2 linked regions of the Homo sapiens genome follow. The protein of the gene in region 1 interacts with the protein of each later gene in a biochemical or structural test. Each region holds a gene or a part of one and is shown on either strand. Other genes may lie near its edges.

Region 1 (3,850 bases):
GTAGCTGGGTTTACAAGGCGCCCACCACCATGCCCGGCTACTAGAAGTTTTAGTAGAGACGGGGTTTCACCATGTTGGCCAGGCTGATCTCGAACTCCTAACCTCAAGTGATCCACCGGCCTCAGTCTTCCAAAGTGCTGGGATTACAGGCGTGAGCCACCGCGCCCAGCCAATCTTAATCTTTTTTAGCAGAGAATTGCACTTCACAAAGAAAGGAAAGAAAATGTTGCACAGAACCCCCTTATATATAACAGAGGGATGAAGCTGCTCTGAAGTTGTGCTAGATCACCTCTCCCTGCTCTCTGTCCCTGGTGGTGTTCCTGGAATCACTTCTTCCCCCAGCATTTTGATATTCTCTGCAAAGTTGTTAGGGAGGGTGACAATACCTCAAATTTGGGCTGTACACATTTACAAAATCCATTCACTATGTCACCCCAGCAGGTCCCCAGCATGCCCTGTGGGGCAGGCAGGGTGTCAGGCATTCCACCACCACTGAATAGACCTCAGTCTCAGGTTATCTGACTTCAGGATGTTCCATTTCCCTTCCCTCCTCTCCCCCAACCCTAGGCGCTACCAGTCTAACTGGGCTGGGCTTCCCTAGGTGAGCAGCAGGCCATGAGACAGGCTGACAGTACATCTGACCCTGACACCCAGGTTGCCCCCATCCTTGCCATCCTCACTCACATTTAGTGACACACTATGCCAGGTACTAGGCTACGCTCTTTATATTTCTTACCTTCCCTTAATCCTCATAATAACCTTGTGAGATACTAAGAATCAGTATTGCCAGTTTTAGATGAAGAAATTGAGGCCCAGAGAGGTTAAGGAACTTGCCCAAGGACACAAAACCAGGAGGTAGTAGAGCTGGATCCTGCAGCCAGGGCTCTTGGCTATGCTATCAAGACTCCACAGCAGGGGGTCTCCTTCATGTTGAAAATGACTCCTCCCTGACATGTTGCACTGAGATTTTCTAGAAATTGGACTCATATTCTTTACAGAGGCAGCTTGGGATGATAGAATGAATGGATTTGGAGATGTATTCCCACTTACTAGCTCTGTCTGAGCCTCAGTGACCTCAAGTGTAAAGAGGGAATAATGTGAAGACCGATTCAGATGACAGATGCTATGTGCCTCGTTACCCCTAAAGGGGAGGAAGATTCCTTATGGAGAAGGTATTATCTTTTTTTTTTTTTTTTTTTTGAGATGGAGTCTTGCTCTGTTGCCCAGGCTGGAGTGCAGTGGTACGATCTCGGGTCACTGCAAGCTCCGCCTCCTGGGTTCACGCCATTCTCCTGCCTCAGCCTCCTGAGTAGCTGGGACTACAGGCACCCGCCACCACACCCAGCTAATTTTTTGTATTTTTTTAGTAGAGATGGGGTTTCACCACATTAGCCAGGATGGTCTCGATCTCCTGACCTCATGATCTGCCCACCTCAGCCTCCCAAAGTGCTGGGATTACAGGCGTGAGCCACCATGCCCAACCGGTATTATCTTTTGAAGGCCTCACTGGCAGGATGGCTCCAGGGCAGGGCTGTGGAGGGTTTTATCTCTTCTTCCTTCAACAACATGGATGGATCCTATCTACCTGGTCCCTACTCACCCCCAGCACAGGGATTTCCAGCTCACCCAGCTCTGAAGGGTGGGTCACCTGGGAGTGGAAGGTGCAGAGTGGGAGCCACAGGCTGCCCCAGGCGGTCCAGGGGAACCAGGTGGGAAAGAGAGACTGGAGATGGGGCCAGGGTCTTAGGCCCTAAGGAAAACCTTCCTCTCCAGGTTGAGGCTGGAGTATGGGGTGGGGGGCAGAGGCGGGGTGTGGGTGCAGGGACTGCCTCAATGCAGTCCATCCTGCCCATACTGAGCTCAGGAATGGGGAGGGAGGCTGTGCTGACATGCTTCCTAGGGTTGGGGGAATGAGGCCTCTTTGCTGAGGAGCAGACTGAAATGTGGTGAGGCTTCTGGAACCTCACTCACTGGAAGAGGAAGCCAGCTGGACCTTGCCTGCAGGGTGCAGCTGGGTCTGCCCTGGCTAGGTGTTGAGGGCCCAGGCGGGAGAGGGCTGTGGGTAAGCAGTGGCAATGCTTTTTCTGTGCTGTGAGCCCAAAACGTTTTTCTGCTCTCAGGGAGCTGGAGGAGGGGGTGATAGAAGTGAGGTGGTGCATTCTCTTCCCTGTGCTCTGACTGCCTGGGCAATCTTTAGACAGTCACTCAGACACACTCTCAGCTTCCACCAAAGCGATGTGGGAGTACAGGGGTCCCCCAAGGCAGCCACGGGCCAAGTGAGCAGCTACTTCTAGGCTGTGTCACCCTAGAGTCTCTGCCCAGCACCCTCTGAATGACTCCTTCAAGATCCCCCACCCTAATCAAACCAAGACGGAATTGCCCCCCAATACAAATCAAGCCAAGCTGTTTTTCAAGAAAGTAATTGTAGCTAAACCTGAAACCTGAACCTGAAAACCCAGCTACCAGGTCACCTGTTTTGTCCTGAGGGCTGACCTAGGTCCAGGTTCAGCAAACTTATGCCAAGGGAGGTATTTCAGATGTCAAATCACTGGTCAGAGTGCAACTGAAAGCATCTTGCAGTCAAAGGCGAGGTGACCCACTCCCACCTCTCCCCGCCCAGGTACCCCCACCCCCACTCTGCGTCTTATGCAGGCCTTGGGCAGTCAAGGCCTGGCGGAGCCCCACCCTGCACAGCTGCAAATATTTATAGCCATGTCCCTTTTCCAGCCCTGTCGAGGGTTCTGCTGTGCTTGCTCCCTAGCTCTGTGAACACCCTGCTGAGAATTCAAATCTGGGCCATCAAGAAGTTCAGGAACAAGTCTCCCAAAAAAACTGAAATTGTACTGCTCTAATGTTAAAGTCACCTTTTGCATTTCTCTGGCTAGGAGTGAGGGGAACTGGGAAGAATGAATTCCTGACACACCTTTCTTTGGGTTTTTTTTGGCTTTTGCAGTGCCTGCATCTACCTACAGCCCGTCCCCAGGGGCCAATTACAGTCCCACTCCCTACACCCCCTCCCCTGCCCCTGCCTACACCCCCTCCCCTGCCCCTGCCTACACCCCCTCACCTGTCCCCACCTACACTCCATCCCCAGCACCAGCCTATACCCCCTCACCTGCCCCCAACTATAACCCTGCACCCTCGGTGGCCTACAGCGGGGGCCCTGCGGAGCCTGCCAGCCGTCCACCCTGGGTGACAGATGATAGCTTCTCCCAGAAGTTTGCCCCGGGCAAGAGCACCACCTCCATCAGCAAGCAGACCCTGCCCCGGGGAGGCCCAGCCTACACCCCAGCGGGTCCTCAGGTGCCACCACTTGCCAGGGGGACCGTCCAGAGGGCTGAGCGATTCCCAGCCAGCAGCCGGACTCCACTCTGCGGTCACTGCAACAATGTCATCCGGTATGGTCCAGCTGTGCCCCTGCACTGGGGCACTGGAAGGGCGTGTGTGTGGGGTGCTTGCCCACAGTCTGAGCCCTGGTTGGGAGAGATGGGGGTAGGAGGCAGGTGTAGGGAGAAAGCCTCGGGTCCTTCTGGCTTGCCATCTGGTCTTACCTCTCTGAGCCTTAGCTGCCATACCTGTGTGACACCCACTCTCCCAGGGAGCTGGGAGGAATGGCATGAGGTATGTGGGTGAAGCTCCAGCAGGATGCCTGGTGCCAGGAACTCCCCCTTGGGCTAAGGTTGAGGTCTGGGAATCACCAGGCTTGTCAGTAGGTTTACAGGGCATTTTGTTAGACAGTGTTGGTTTTGACCCAGTTTTCCTTTAGGGTTGTTTCTGGGTCTTTCCACAGACAGGCCTGGGCTGCTCAGGGGGTTGGTGGGCATCTGCCAGACTAAAATGAAAACAAGTG
Region 2 (3,500 bases), on another chromosome or scaffold:
TTGATAGCCTCTCTTTTAAAAAGTCTGTGACATTATTAAAGAGGTGACGGAATGCTTGTTTTGCAAACCCCAACACATCTTTCACTGTGGACCATTGCTATTACTTCATTAACACAGTTGCTCAGATCTCAAGGTACTCACGGTCTGAAATATATTTTACAATTAGAAGGTATGCACAGGTCAAAAAGAGCAATCCAAGGGTTAGAAGTCCCCAGTGCCCCACACTGGCTCATTGCCGAGGTGACAGGGTGCAGGCTGTGTGAGCCAGGCACACTTACCCCTCAACTGGGCTTCTGTAGCTTTACAATTTGGATAACTAGTTAGCGGACAGTAGTTGGGACATGTCACATACAGATTTGAGTCCTCCAATAATGTACACTTTGCCAGGTTTTATCCCTTTGTTAAAGCAAATAGAACAGAGAGGGAATATAGCTGCCAGTAAAAATCATTTCCCCCCTCTTAATCTCCCATCCTTCATCTCCATGAAACCGACTATTAAGATAACCTTTCTCTCTCTGTGCACTAGTGGAAAAAGTAAAGTTCTATAGAAACTCACAGTTAAGAGGGACTCTGAATACAGCAAGTTAAGGCTTTTAGTGCAAATAGAATGAATTCCCACTAAGGTCAAAAGGTTTCAATTGGGTACCATGCTGACTTCTTGGTATCTTTTAAGGCCTAATTTTCCCTTCCTTGAGATTACTGTAGTGTGTTCCAGCTAATTTCTATTTGGAAACGAGTTGGAACAGCTGAAAACTAGGTATTATTGAAGGCAAAGCAGCCTCACGTCAGTTTTTTATCAGCTCATTTGGGAAGGTTTTTTTTTTTTTTTTTTTTTTTTTTTAATTAATTAGAAAGTAGGCTGGGCACGGTGGCTCATGCCTATAATCCCAGCACTTGGGGAGGCCGAGGATCTCCTCTCTGGTGGATCACTTGAGGGCAGGAGTTAAGAGACCATCCTGGCCAACATGATGAAACCCTGTCTCTACTAAAAATACAAAAAGTAGCTGGGCGTGGTGGCATACTCTTACAATCCCAGCTACTTGGGAGGCTGAGGCAGGAGAATCACTTGAACCTAGGAAGCAGAGGTTGCAGTGGGCCAAGATCACACCACTATACTCTAGCCTGGGCGACAGAGGTGGGGAAAAAAGTAGGACCCCTGTCCTATATTCAGGTTTTTCTCACATATATGAACCCATCTAAATTCTACGTTGTTAAAGGTAGCTTAGGTTAATTAGTCTATACTTATTTAAGAACAATATGGGGTGAGATGGATTTTTTTTTAAAAATCCTAAAGTAAGGCTTTCTACTTTCCTTCTAATGAGGAAAAAGGTGACAAAAATTCAAGTGTCAATGTCCCCTTCCTGGGAAGAGGTTTAGAAAAACAACAGCTCACCTTCTGAACTCTACCAGTTCCTTTTGAAGTTAACGAAGCATTAAAATCAGATGTAAAAAAAGAAAAAAAAAGGCAGGGAAATATTTACAAAACTGGACATTCTTTACAGATATACAATCTTGCTAATACTGGGAGAACCATACAAGGATGTATAAAGAGAGACAGTCACCTTAGTAATGCAAGGATAGAGAAAACCAGGATATAATATGTGTTTTTTATTGCCAGAACATGGTGAAACTAGGAGGAGCAGAGATGACCTGATCCCTGAAGTGAACTGCTCAGCTATTCTGTGTACCTCAGGAGGTCTGCAAGTGTGTGGTTAGGTAAAAACTGAGCTGTGCAAACTCACTGTATCCAAGCTCTTCTCATGAGAGAGCAGAACAACCTGGCAAGCTTAAAGGCAAGTGTTTTCGTTCTTTTAATTAAATAGGCTGTGACAAAATTAACAATAAAACTAGCCCAGAACCAACCAGCCCGGTAAGTGTCGTGCAAATCTTGCAGTAACAAAAGACCATCTGAGAGACTACACGTTGGTCTCCAGTCCTAGCAAGCGTCCCATTCTCTCCACATTCTTATCAATTGTAGCTTGACATGTTATCTCCTTGGCACATTCCATAGGAAACCAGCCTCTTTCTCCATCTCGTAGTCGTTCCCCCTCATACCAGCCTGTGAAAAAGAACAGAGTCCACACCAAACAACAAGTATTTGGAGTGTGCCAGGCTCCAAGGATATGAAAAAGCTGAGAGGCAGCATCCCTCCCCAGGCTAAGTGCTACGGTGAGAAGAGAAAGTGGGACAGGGAAAGCTTTCGAGGGGGAATGAATGACATGGCAGGGAAAGAACGTGAGCAGAGGCCCTGAAGTGAGAAGGCTGAGAGTATTTGAACCTGGGCTGAGCTGGGAAAGGAGATGCTTTGGGTAAAGGATAGCAGGAAGAATGCTATTTTTGAAAGGACGAATATTTAGAGATAAGAACTGGGTCACTGAGGGACTGGGGAAAAAAGAAAACGTCATGGTTTAGCCTTAGAGATGAGAAGACAGTACATATATGTGATCTCAAACATTAACATGTCAAGATTTGGAATATGGGCAATGATGACAAAATGACACTCCTCGGGTCTATAGCACTCTGCATCCTGGACCACGAGTGTCCCATAAGAACGCTCCCACTCACCATCGCTGACACGTTGATAGATGAGGACGACGTCAGCCACCTGCAGGGAGAGTTCATCTGGCTGCTTAGCAGTAAATGACCTAACGATTTCCACCTGGGTCAGTGCTGAGGCCAAAAGAGGACATACTAAGTTTCCAGTAGCAGAGAAAAAACATGTGCAATCCAATAATGTACACTTACTTATTTTTCTCTGCAATTCAGGGCCAGCATTGAGAGAAACAAGTTGGGCTTCTAATAAAAAGCAGAACATCTTTTCTAGCAACTCCCTTGCTTGGCTATAAGCTTTAGAATTTTAGAAGCTCAGATTTGAGAGGCCTTTTATGATGCATGATTCCCCTCAATAACAGGTTGATCAGGAGTCATTAGTCATGTCACACAATGGAACAGAAAACAGCCACTCTGCATTAGGGAAACTGAGACATGAAAGAGTTGCTGATGTGCCAAGGCCATGCAAAATCTGCAACAGACACAGTTCTCCTGGCTCTCATCAGAGTGTCTCCCCATCCCAACAGCAGCACATGAAAGTTTCCAAAAAAAAGTTTAGAAATAAAATGAGCTCCAACCAAAAGCTGAGAAGTCATGTTAGACCTCCTCAGAAATGCTGACATGTGGCCGGGCACGGTGGCTCACGCCTGTAATCCCAGCACTTTGGGAGGCCGAGGCAGGCGGATCACGAGGTCAGGAGATTGGGACCATCCTGGCTAACACGGTGAAACCCCGTCTCTACTAAAAATACAAAAAATTAGCTGGGCATGGTGGCGGGCGCCTGTAGTCTCAGCTACTTGGGAGGCTGAGGCAGGAGAATGGTATGAACCCAGGAGACGGAGCTTGCAGTGAGCTGAGATAGCACCAGAGCGAGACTCCATCTCAAAACAAACAAACAAAATGCTGACATGTGACTTCTTAATTTGCTTTTTAATACAAAGCTTGATTTC

What was found.
Region 2: the proteins of LDB3 (region 1) and ARHGEF26 interact in a test that uses a peptide from one of them, tested with the Homo sapiens proteins (one large-scale study listed by IntAct).

What each region holds. Positions count from the first base shown.
Region 1 is NC_000010.11:86,713,374-86,717,223, forward strand, and holds part of LDB3 (LIM domain-binding protein 3), read left to right. Parts: intron 1-2,953; coding exon 2,954-3,398; intron 3,399-3,850. UniProt on the Homo sapiens protein: May function as an adapter in striated muscle to couple protein kinase C-mediated signaling via its LIM domains to the cytoskeleton.
Region 2 is NC_000003.12:154,253,890-154,257,389, reverse strand, and holds part of ARHGEF26 (rho guanine nucleotide exchange factor 26), read right to left. Parts: exon of another isoform or gene 3,417-3,500; intron 2,671-3,416; coding exon 2,566-2,670; intron 2,060-2,565; coding exon 1,917-2,059; 3' UTR 1-1,916. UniProt on the Homo sapiens protein: Activates RhoG GTPase by promoting the exchange of GDP by GTP. Required for the formation of membrane ruffles during macropinocytosis. Required for the formation of cup-like structures during trans-endothelial migration of leukocytes.